Linked DNA regions of Homo sapiens: region 2 is linked to region 1. Evidence: fine-mapped expression QTL. Tissue or cell type: tibial nerve. Region 1 holds a variant in brackets; the other region holds the start of a gene. All regions are shown on one strand. Distances are from middle to middle.

What was found. PIP is the estimated chance that this variant, and not a neighbour inherited with it, causes the effect. A credible set is the group of variants that fine-mapping cannot tell apart.
Region 2: it holds the start of LINC02511, and the variant in region 1 is the best candidate, but not a certain one, in a credible set for the expression of LINC02511 in tibial nerve (GTEx, PIP 0.55).

The regions. Positions count from the first base shown.
Region 1 is chr4:136,796,983-136,803,323 of GRCh38, forward strand. It overlaps LINC02511 (long intergenic non-protein coding RNA 2511), which reads right to left. Exons shown (of 4, transcript NR_149105.1): 4 at 1-1,252. Among named protein-coding and RNA genes, the nearest start is that of LINC02510, 390 kb to the right of the region's middle. The variant C/T (reference allele first, on the strand shown) is at 3,047.
Region 2 is chr4:137,210,110-137,216,450 of GRCh38, forward strand. LINC02511 (long intergenic non-protein coding RNA 2511) reads right to left here and starts at 2,690. Exons shown (of 4, transcript NR_149105.1): 1 at 2,628-2,690.

The DNA.
Region 1 (6,341 bases):
TGAAGAATGAAGGAAAGATAAGAAGTTAGTGGCTGATATATACAAATATGTACATAACAAAGCAAGGAAGAAAACACAAATATGCATAGCTATTCAAGTTCTCTTTCCTTAAATGGGGCACAAAGTTGTAATTTGCATTTTTAACTTTCCCCTTCCACAAGCCATTCATTGTTCCCTTGCCCTCAACCAGCATTGAGCTGGTGTGATTTAAATCTTTATTCCTGGGGAAGGCAGGAGACCTTATTGGTACTGTCTTTAGTGAGTTGATGTTGTTTCCTAAGGGGTGTTAAAAGATATTCCCCATAAAAGGAATCTCCGGAGATTCAGACCTATGCCCTCATTTCCCCGGCGTTAAGCATTATTGTGTTAGACATTGTTCCAGATACTAAAGGGCAGAGTGTTTCAACATTATGCCAGGAAATTGACGTAAAATGGAATTCTGAGATGAATTTTCTGAGTTGACTGGGCTTGACTTGATAACTTTTTGCCACCCTGGTGATGCCTCAATTGACTCACATTCAGTGAAACCATGGTGGTACAGAGAGAATTTCTACCTAGGCTTCAAAACGTGAACTTTCCCTCAGAAAGGGTGACTGCAGTGCTGCTGCGCATCTAACCAGACAGCAGCAAAGGTCACCACTGGCTCACTAATAGGGCTTTATATCCCAGGCAAACCAGCCAGCAACCTGATGGCAGGATTAACTTACAGGAGATCCTTTTCCATATGGAGAGGCCAGAGATTTATCCTCATAAAAATAAACCTACTAGATATGGATTATTTTTCTTCTCAATGCTTGCAATGCTTCTGTGAAAACTACCATCCTTTGACTTCCTGAATGGTTTATTTATTGTAATGATGTCCCAGGGCACTCACAGGGGGAAGATCTAGAAGTTGCTGCAAAATGTCGTGTCTGTGAAGTCCATATGTTTGTGTGCTGCCACTGAGAAAGAAGGCAATGCTTTCTTATTCATACTTTTCTATCTCAAAATTTCATACAAATGTATCTTAGCAAAATGAGAATCACATTGAAGATTTGTTAAAAAAAAAAAAAGTAAGTTTGATAAATATAGTACCAAGGCTTCTAGCCTTTGCAATACAGAAGAAAAGACTGGAAGGTGTGCAGATGACTACCCATTGAAATATGGAAAGGCACTGAAAGGTCTTGCCCAGACAGGTAGCATGTACTTGCTTTGCCTTCTAGTCTTCTGCTCCGACATCCATTGCTTGAGTCAGGTGCCTCTCTTTCATTATCTGCGGATTTAGATAAATCATGTTAATTGGCTAATGCAACATGGAAACTATATTCAAGTTTTAAAATAGGTGACATATTTTTCTTAGGAATTGAGGCCTTCACAAGAATTATCACGAACTCTTCATATACTGAAAATTTGCTAATTAGATGCTAAAGTTTAATGACCCAGGCTTCTGGACAAAGCATCTCATTGTAGGAAATGCAGCTTTTAAGAATACGGTAAAAAGTTTGATCAACACCATAATGCAGAAATTTCAGAGAGGAGTATCTGATGTGCTTGAGAGAATAATATTTCAACACAATATATTGGTTTAATTGAATCTTGAATGATGAGAGTAAATTAGGTAGTAAAACAAATGGGAAAGATGTACAAAGAAGAAAGTGGAATAGATGCTAGTGCAACTGTGAAAACATACGCTCCTAATATAATTGGGATATTAGGGTGAGGTGGGAGACATCCTAATCTCTAGAGAAAATAGGAAACTGCCTTTCCTCTTCCTGAAGAGGTTAAGATTCATTGCACATGTAGGGAAAAATGGATTTCTCAGCAACAGAACTGGATCACTCTAATGGGCAGAGTTGGTTGGAAGGGGAAGTTTTGCCAGTAAGAATAAGCAGTTATACATAGAACTGAAATGGCCATTTCTTAGTTTATTTGCATTGCAATAAAGAAATACCAGAGGCTGAGTAATTTATACAGAAGAGAGGTTTATTTGGTTCATAGTTCTGCATGCTGTACATGAAGCATGGTGCCAGCATTTGCTTCTGGTGAGGATTTCACTTCACGGTGAGATGGGGGCAAAGGGCAGCTGGCATGTGCAGAGGTCACGTGGCAAAAGAAATTAGAAGCAAAAGAGAAAGGAGAGAGAGAAAATGGAGGTGGCAGGCTCTTTTTAACAATCAGTTCTCCCAGGAACTAATAGAGCGACTCACCCATTACCCTGAGGGTGACAACAAGTTGTTCATGAGCGATCTGCTCCCATGACCCAAGTGCCTCCCACTATGCCCCACTTCCACCACTGAGGATCAAATTTCAACAAGTGATTTGGAGGGAACAAATATCCAAACTATATCAGGTTGTATGTTCTTTTAACTTACATCATTTGCTTTTAGATTGTTCCATCTCAAGCAACTGCTATGTCCTGTGTAACCTGGAGGAGATATCCAACCTTAGATGATAAAGAGAAAACCAAGCAGAGCCCATGATGGATAAAGGGCAAGAACAGGCCACAGAAGCATATCTGTCTTAAATTTATTTTCATGGGGTGTTTCTAAGCTTCGGATGGTCCAGCCCAACTGAAAGGAATCAAAATCCAAGGAGAATTTTGTGGGTCATATGCTAGTAATAAATGACAGGGTACATTTTCCAGCGATGTGTTCTATGATATATAGAATTATCAGACTAATAAAATTAGCTACAGAGTAAGTGGTTGGTCAAAGACTTGATAGAATGAAGTCCTTATATTGGCTGTTTCCACCTCAATTCAGGTAATGTCAAAGGCTCTGTGACAAGGATCTATTTTGTAGATCCTTTTACTAGTAAACGGTGTAATACTGAATAAGATGAAAAAACTTAAAGTCTGAATAAAAGAAGTTATCCATAGTAGAATATGTGGTAGTCTAAAAGACCTACTTAACTTCATAATTCCTCATTATTTTGGAATAAATTAGTACTCAATTTTTTTGCAAAGTTCTAAAATATAGGTAGAATTATCTGATAGGCTTTATGTAAGTTGTATAGATAAGGGATCTGCATCTGTGTGCCATTGTATATAGGCTTGGTGCTATTCCCG[C/T]CATAAAAATTAGTCCCACAGCTTGGAATTTAAACTTAACGCTACTGTTTTTGATACTACAAAATAAGTTTTCGCTGTGAACCACTGAAAGGATTTTTTCTCTATCTAATTTTGAGGTTTTCCATCAACAGACACTTAGTGGAGATTTTCTTAGTAAGAGATGGTTTTACATTACATGCTGTAAAATCACAGTTCAAAATTACCTGAGTAAATTTATTTTCTTTAACAAGTGCTTTATAAATATTCATTTAAAAAGTCATGTTTATAAATTGAAATGGTCCTTTGTAAATGTCCAATTACAATCATTTGACAAGTATAAATACACTTTGTGGCAAACAATAGCCTGATTTATGCAGATCCCATTAGATATGACTGTGAACTATAATTATCCTAGTGGACTATAATTTTGCCTGCCCAGTCATTCATAGAGTTTAATATACTCAACTGAGACTGGATTTTCGAAGCTGTTTGTAACAGTGGCAATGATATATGTGTCACCACCCTTTCTAATTCTTTTTTTGCTTCAATAAATAATCTCAGCTAGGACCTCATTCATGCCGTTTTGCTCAACTCAACAGGTTCGAAACAAATTGAGAATAATATTAATAGCAAGTCACTTTTGCTAAGCCTAAAGAATACTTACCTTTGTGGGTATTTTTTCTTTTTTGTATATTTGGTCATTAGAGGTTAAACACAATGTTAGTTAAATTATTGCCTTGATGAAGTAAATTGCCTATTTTAGAGAGTATTATATAAGGGTAAGAAATTGCAGCTAAAACATGGAAGTCAAGTTTGAAAAAAAACTTGGATGTTTACTTTCCTATTTTAAATTCATGACCTATCACTTCTCCTGACTTGGTAGATAAAATCGGTCTTTAAAATTTAATATGCTATTAGTAATTGCTCATAGTAATGTATAACCCAACTTCATCACAAGAGAGCATATAAATAGAGTCCCTTTAGCAAGATGTTTGCATGATACCAAAACAACCAGGTAGTTCAGACAAATCACCCAATTTAGTGCCATTCAAAAATTCAGTGATGTGAACACAATATTAAATAACACTGTCCTGATCCTGAACCGTCTCTATGATTGCAGTTTTTGAATTAACATTACAAATAGTTGTTGAATATAGCACTATTTTTCTGATTTTGGATGACACTGTGTAGAACAAAATCTATTGTCATAGAGCAATTATTTCATTTCTTCACAAACTAGCAGGAAGATTCAACTTAGGGCAAGTTTTCTTTCCAAAATTTTGCTAGTATAATATTATTTTTTAACATTTTGTAATATAAAAGTAAGGTAAGCTTACAGCAAAACAGAAAATTATAGAATAGAATGTAGAAATCTTAAATTAAATTTTTAAAGGAAAAATACTTGTTTTACAATGCAAATCATTTTTTATCATACTCATTTATTAAAGCTACTCTTCCCTGAAAGTGCCTGCAAACTGTCATCAGTATTTGTTCCTGAGCTGTTTCTACAAAACAAACTCAACCGTTTAATGACACCAGCTTTTAGCATCTGCTTTCATTATCATTATATGAGGCAGTGCTATGCTGTGGCACCCCGTGCCTTTGGAACAAGAATGCTGGACCCTGGACCTTTAGAATGAGTTACAGAGTTTTCCTGAATACAGTATTGTGTTCTATGCCAATACAGGGATAGTGATGTTTCTCTTACATTTTGCAGTTTCACTATGCTAGATGAGTTTCAAAACAATGCTAATTTTTCTCTAGACATATAATGGAAATTTAACAAAAACACCCTTTTCAGTTTTTATTTACAGACTTATCTCGATCTTAAAGTCAGTCATGAGCCCGTAGGTGTTGGGGCATGGTATAGTGAAGATGGGGATAAATGTGAATTTTAAGCAACAGATAGCACTTATAAAACCCAGAGACTGAAAGGCTACCATCTTGTGATTTCAGGCAGGTGTGCAAGACTCTCCTTGGAGAGTTCTACTTCAGGACTTTGTTTCTTTCCCAAGAGGCTTCTAATCTCCTTTGCTTGAAGGTCTGCCCTGGCACCTCAGTTCTCTCCCAAAAGTCCATAAATGCCTACAACCTGACAAAGAGTTCAGTTTAGGCTCATGATAGGCTTTGGTATACAGGTGTGAGCCACCATGCCTCGCCCACAATCTTTCTTAATTCTATGTATACTTTTTTTATTTCTTTTTTTGAGACGGAGTCTCGCTCTGTCACCCAGGCTGGAGTGCAGTGGCACGATCTCGGCTCACTGCAACCTCCGCCTCCCGGGTTCAAGCAATTCTCCTGTCTCAGCCTCCCGAGTAGCTGTGACTACAGGCATCTACCACCATGCTCAGCTAATTTTTGTATTTTTAGTAGAGACAGGGTTTTACCATATTGGTCAGGCTGGTCTCAAACTCCTGACGTTGTGATCCACCCGCGTTGGCCTCCCAAAGTGCTGGGATTACAGGCATGAGCCACCATGCCCAGCCAATTCTATGTATACTAAATGTAATGATAAATGTACTTTTATTGATTTTCATCCTCATTCTCTAACATTTGGGTTTTTATGTTTTGTTATTGTAAATATTTTTCCTTTTAACTGTTGTTTGTATTAAGTGTTTCTTTTGGATCACTTTGTTATTGTCTATATTAAGAGTTATTTTTTTAATTAGCCGGGTGTGGTGGCAGGCACCTGTAGTCCCAGCTACTCAGGAGGCTGAGGCAGCAGAATTTCGTGAACCCAAGAGGCAGAGTTTGCTGTGAGCCGAGACTGCGCCACTACACTCCAGCCTGGGCGACAAGGCCAGACTCCGTTCCAAAAAAAAAAAAAAGTTTTTTTTTCCAATTTTATTTACTTGGAGTTAAGATTAAGTAGAAGTGGGTTGACACCCACATGATATTTTTTTTCCACAACAATTGCAATGTGAGAAAAAATGCTAAGCTCTTAAATTACTGTGGTCTATGTCCATTAAACTTCCAGTCAATTTTGAAGATGATGTATTATACTACCTCAGAGGATGCTTGTGATGAATTCCCTTGCACACCAAGAAATTACAGTTTCTATATAACTGCCTTCTATACATAACACAACCTTTGGTCTATAATTTCTGTACTCATGTTCAAGAACCATAAAGTCCCGGATTTCACATTCAAATGTCATTATTAACTGTTTTGCTGAGAATAAAATAAATTTTGAGAGAAAAAAAAGCACCAAAAACCAGTGTCATAGGATCATTCACGCTCCGTCTGTTGTTCCTCTCTCTCCTATGACAACCTCAAGGCACATTAAAAGTATTGAGTGCTCCCTAAAAAATACCAG
Region 2 (6,341 bases), 410 kb after region 1:
TGTAAACATTAGTGCAATATTCATTTAGTATTGTCAGAAGAAATATTAATTTTCTATTAGTAAATTTTTACCTATTTGTACATGAAATACAAGCATTTCCTGGAGTCAAAGATATTATCATGATGTAGGAATGAAGACACGGAGGAGTGTAAGAAGCCAGAAGGGCAAAACTGGAAGAATATCCATGTTGCAGTGCTTGGTATTATTCTGTAATTGTGAGCAAAACAAGATACGTTGTTTGGAAAGGAAATGATTTTTAAAAGTTATGTGGAGAATAGTTCTTATAGAAGAACAGGGAATGCTTTAAGAGGGAAAGATTAGTGGCAAAAAAAAAAAATAAACACACACACATACATAAATATCCTACCATAGTTCAAGAAATAGACAATGCAGATGTGGACTAGGATATTGTCAGTGAGATTTTAATAGATTCGATGAATTGAAAACTTGTCTTGGTGTTTTAAAGCAAGGAGATATATTGACTGGTTAAAAAAGTGGAAAACGTATGGTGTTTTTTAAGTATTTGGAAGAATAGTTAGGATTTCGATAGATAAATGGGAAAAATGGAAAGAGTCCTTGAAACAAAAAGAAAAAAACATAAAAGAATTGTATGAACAGTGTGGTGCTTGTTTATCAAAAATAATATTATTTTTAAAGTTGAGAACCCTAGAAAGATAAGGAAGCAAAAAGTAAAATTATGGTTAGTCTCTTTATAAAAATGCCAGATCATAAGGATACTTTTCATAAAAAATATTTGCTATTAGACTTCTTTAAGATTCTGAATTATTTTCATACTAAGCAATTCAGTTAAATGAATAAACAATATAATTTCAGCAGGCAATTTTGACAAATGAGTTAATCTATAATTTTAGTAGCTATATGCACACAAAATGAGGATTGTGCAATAGAAGTGTGTATTTTATTGGATTACTTCAGAATCAACGTGGGATGTTGAATATATATGTTTATATCTGCGCACACTTCAAATTCCATTACATCAGTTAAAAATATACATATAAATACACAAACGGAAATAGAACTAGAAAGGCAACCAAGATAGACAAGATTTCAACATTTTTTACAAGGTGAAGATGAAAAAGGAAAGGGAACAGAGAAAGCTGAAAAACTGACTGCAGTGAGAGAAGACAGTGAGAGGCAAAACTGTTCATAAAGCACAACTATAGAAAGGCTCAGGAACTGAAGTCACTGGCTGAAGGGGAAGGTGGAGGTGAAGCTTGATACTGAAAGATGGATTGGTCAAATGTCTACAGTAAGGGTATTGAAACCATAAGGTCATATTCTCTATTGCATTTCTCTAGGTAATAACTCTTCCTCTACCTTACAAAAGGGAAACTGGATTAGAAAGCCTCTAGCATTGGGCCCACTAAGCACAGTGGAAACCATGAAGGACCTACTTCCAGAAAGCATAGGGTTCAGTGAGAAATCTTCCTACTGTGATAACAGCAACACCCAACCATCAAGTGTGTCTGGTATGTAAACATACCACATAGAAAGGAGATGGATGATTCTACTCAGGAGAAGAAATATCACCTTGGCGAAATAATCTTTTTTTTTCCACGTTTTGTAGTCTTCCGATGAAATGCCAATTTCTCTGCCATCACATGAAACAACTTTCCCTAAGACTAGAACTTCTATCATTTTATCATTTCTAGAGGGATAACAGATGGAACAATAGTTAATACTTAAATTTCATATTTATAGAACACCATAAATTCAAACTTCTAGCTTGCACCCAGAACCAATTATTTGTGAACTGTGAACTAGACTATTGAACCCAAAGCTTTTTTTCCCAGGGTTAAATATTTTGAGAAAATTCTTTAAAAGTTAATCTAGGACATGCTGGAAAGATCCTAGATAATCCTAGACTGTCCTTTTGCTTTCAAATAAACCAATAAGGTGAATATTATCCAGAATTAAACATCTATCACCTTTCAAGACCTCTCCTGAAATTTCATCTAGGTCACGTTAAAATGACTACATTGTTTGTTCTTTCTACACCTGAAAACTAAAGAACTAACCATCTTTAGTTGAGTAGATTATTTCATATTATATCTAGCATCTCTATTCATGCACAGTCTCATAGAATAAGAATAAGCTAGTATTTCCATTAAAGCAAAATATATTTTCATGATATATTTTTGTATTGCCTGACAAGGCTAAATAGAATACTTAATGTAGAGTTCTTCAATGATATAGGCCTAGACATATACCCATTTTCAAGTAAAATACTCTACACAAATAAACACCGTCATGTTTACAAGCAACCAAATATATAAGAGTTGCTATTCTTTGATCTCTTATTATGAACCTAGTGCTACTGAATTAATGCTCCTGTGAGGTCAGTACTATTGTTATATCCATTTTATGGACAGGAAAAGGCAGAGACATGTTAAGGTAATTTCCCAGGTTGTATCATTAGTAATTGTCAGAGCCAGGATTCCCACCTAAGTGGTCTCGCTCCAAAAGCACTATGCTATACTGCCTCTAATAATCACAATGTAAATTATAATCATAAATTTATCCTATCTTCAGACACATAATTTGCTTACAAAATTTGAGTTTGAAAAGATCCTCTCCACTGATGAGCTTTCCTGATCTCTGCTTACCCAAAGCTGTGGAGGCAGGCTGCTGTGTTCTTCATCCACTCTCCTTTGTTTCTCAGCACAATTGCTCATTGTTCACCATTAAAGTCAACTCTAGGCTCTATGCTTATTTCTACTTCACACAGCTGATGGCTTCCTACTGCTTTAGCTGGTGTTTCTCCAAGTCTGATTCCTAGACAACCTGAGACACTATTACCTAGGGTGCTTATTTAAAATGCAGATTCTTATCCCCAGACTAAATGTATTCTATCAGATACTTTGAGGTGTGGCATCCATTAATCTCTGTTTTGTCACAAAATCTTTAACGTGTGCGAGTTTATTTACACAAACAGCACATGCTATACTCATATTTCTGAATGCATACATAAGAAACTGTAATAGTTGTTATTCCTCTTGTAGAGCTAAACAATGAGAATAAGGCTCTAGAGACACTAGAACTTGCTAGTCTAAAGACACTAGCTTTTTTAAGCAAAACATTTTGTTTCAGAATGTTCTAAGTTTTTAACAAGCACCTAGATAATTCTTAAGCTCATGATTTTTGAAAACCAGTGTGTTATTCCAATATCCCACTAATGGTTTAGGATAATAAATATTACCTATTAATTTCCATAAGCTTCATAGTTACATCCAAACTAAATTCCTTTGTGATGCTGTTACAATTCCCTTTCTTCCTCATTTGAACTTGTTCTCTCCAACTGCAGTGCTATATCACCAAATTTCCATGTGGCTTATTACCTCCCTCAGTTCAGATCTGCTCATCAAAAGTCACCTCAGCAGAGAACTTCCTAGACCAATTTACAAAATAACTCCTCAAGTGTGGAGGGAAAATGTGCTGACCTAATTAAATTTTGAATAGAGTGGAATCTAAATGACTAAAAGCAAAAGGAACTATACATAAACACTGTACATTATTTGATAAAGTTCATTTTTCAAAGGAGTACATGTTAACAATTTTGAAACTACTATACATGTATACTTGAACTGAACAAACAAGTAAATGAATAGCAGATGGTGGGAATCATGTTTCTCACCGATGAAGAGAGAGATTATAGATAAGCAAGGGAAGAAGTCTAGAATGACTCACACAACATTGGATTAGAGTTGGAGTCATCGAATTAAATATAAACATATGTTTAGCATAATATACATACAGGTGGACATATATAGTGAAAGTTATAGATATATGTGTATAGTAGCCTGTGCATACACCCATGTATTAGGTTAGTATACACACATAGATTTCCAAACTCTCTCGGCCGGAAGAGTCTAGACACTGTGACACTGCAGTAGCAGCAAACTCACCCAGTGCTCAGATCTTGGTTTGCATTATCTTTACCTTCCCCAATAAAAGGTATCAGGGATCCTTAGAGAACTGACTAATTCAAGGGCTGGGACATGGAATATACAAGATGAGCCTGGAGCATCTTTGCAATGCCAGAAAGTAAGGAAGTGATTTTTAAAAATGATGAGGACATATCAAAGAGACACAGGAGAAAAGCAAATGATTTCCCAGTGGTCAAATCTGGAGTGGTTTGTAGAAGAAAATGAGTATTGGATTATAATCCAAAGTATAAAATAAATATCCATGACTCCATCCTGATATCAATGGATGACTGAATATATTTTTTAAGTGAAGGGGACTAATCAGATCTCCTGTGCGGGAGAATTCCAAATAGTTGATGTAGATACTGCTTCCTTAGGGAGGTAGAGTGCAACTTACAAGTGCTTGAGTATGAGCTGCATATAATGACTTTCTTCCAAAGAGCACAGTATGGAAAGAGAGAAGAACATTGTTTACAAAGGAAAAACCTGACAAAGAGTACTTTAGCCAGGTAAAAGACTTTCATCAACATGTTGATAGAATACAGTCAACTTTCATAAGGCATGTTGATAGAATATAGCCTTGATGTGATGTGATGACAATGGCATTTTACATTTGTGATCGTCCCAAAAACCCATATCCTTAGTTTCTGAGTAAAACACAAGGCAAACCCAAATTGAGGGATATTCTACAAAACACCTGACCAGTACTGATCACCACTATCAAGGTTATTAAAAAAGAGGAAAACCTGAAAAACTGTCACAATTTAGAGGAGGTTAAGAGATATAATAACTAAATGTTAACATGGTATCCTAGCTGGTGACCTAGAACAGAAAAAGGACATTAGGTAAAAACAAGGAAATCCTAACAAAGTTTGAACTTTAATATATATCATCATTGTTTCATTATTTTTTACAAATGTAGCATATCAATAGAAGATATTATCAATACAGTAAACTACCTGTGAGTTAAAGAAGTATATATTTGCAAATTTTATGTAAAGTTAAAAGACTATTCTAAATTTTTAAAACAAAATAATCTCAACCACAGTATTAAATGACACATAAACTTTTTCATTATAGTAAAATATATCTAACATAAAATATACCATTTTAACTATATTTAAGTGTATAATTCACATTCACATTGTTGTGCAACTGTCACTCCTATTAATCTTCAGAACTTCTTCTTCATTCCAAGTTGTAACTCTGAACTCATTAGCAAACAACTTGCCATCCATCCTAGACCCTGGTAACTACCATTCTGCTTTCTGCGTGTATGAGTTTGAGCACTCTGGGTACCTCATACAAGTGGAATCATACAATATTTGGTCTTTTGTGCCTGGCTTATTTCATTTAGCAAAATATCTTTAAAGTTTATTCCTGTTGTAGCATGTATCTGAATTGTATTCCTTTATAAGGATAAATAATATTCCATTGTATACACCACATTCAGTCAGTGGACATTTGAGCTGTTTCCACCTTTTGGCTGCTGTGAGTACTGAACATTGGTGTAGAGATCTATTCAAGTCCCTGCTTTCAGGTCTTTTAACTATGTATCCAGAAGTGGAATTGTTGAATCACATGTAAATTCTATGTTTAATAATTTGAGAAACGTCTATACTATTTCTATAGTGGCTGCACCATTTTATATTACTACCAGCAATACAGAAGGGTTCAAATTTCTCCACATCCTCACCAACAGTTTCTGTTTTATGAGGTTTTGTGTTTGTTTGTTTTTCTTTTTGTTTTTTATAATAGCTACCCTATGTTTGTGAAGTGGTATCTCATTACGGTTTTAATTTGCATTTCCCTAGTGATTAGCCATGGTAAGCATTTTTTAAATGTACTTTTTGATTATTTGTATATCTTCTTTGAAGAAATGTTTACTCTAGTCCTTTGCCCATTTTTTAATTGGGTTGTTTTTTCTTTGGTGTTGAGTTGTGAGAGTTCTTGATGTATTCTGGATATCCCACACATACTCATTATTTTTTCTTTGTACTAATTACCTTACATAATATAGGTTATACTATATGCACATAACAAGAGCATAGAATATGTAAATGTAAGTTAATACTACTGCATAATGTAGATATTTGTAGTCTATTCTTATGGCACATATTTATAAACATTAAAAATAGGCCTAGGTGGGGTCTTCCTTTGTTTATTTTATCCTTATTTAATGCATTTTACTCCAGTAAAACTTAGAATATATTAAAAGCCAAGATGTGTCAGATAAGGTGGATATTCTGACTCAGAGTTCACTTCAATCTTCTAGTATGTGTTCTATAGAAACCAGAAAGTCAAAATTAAGTTTCCTAGATTCCCCTTTTATCTGGAGTTCCCATGTGACCACATATAAAAAATGATGAAGCAAAGGAAAATAGAGTTAGGGAG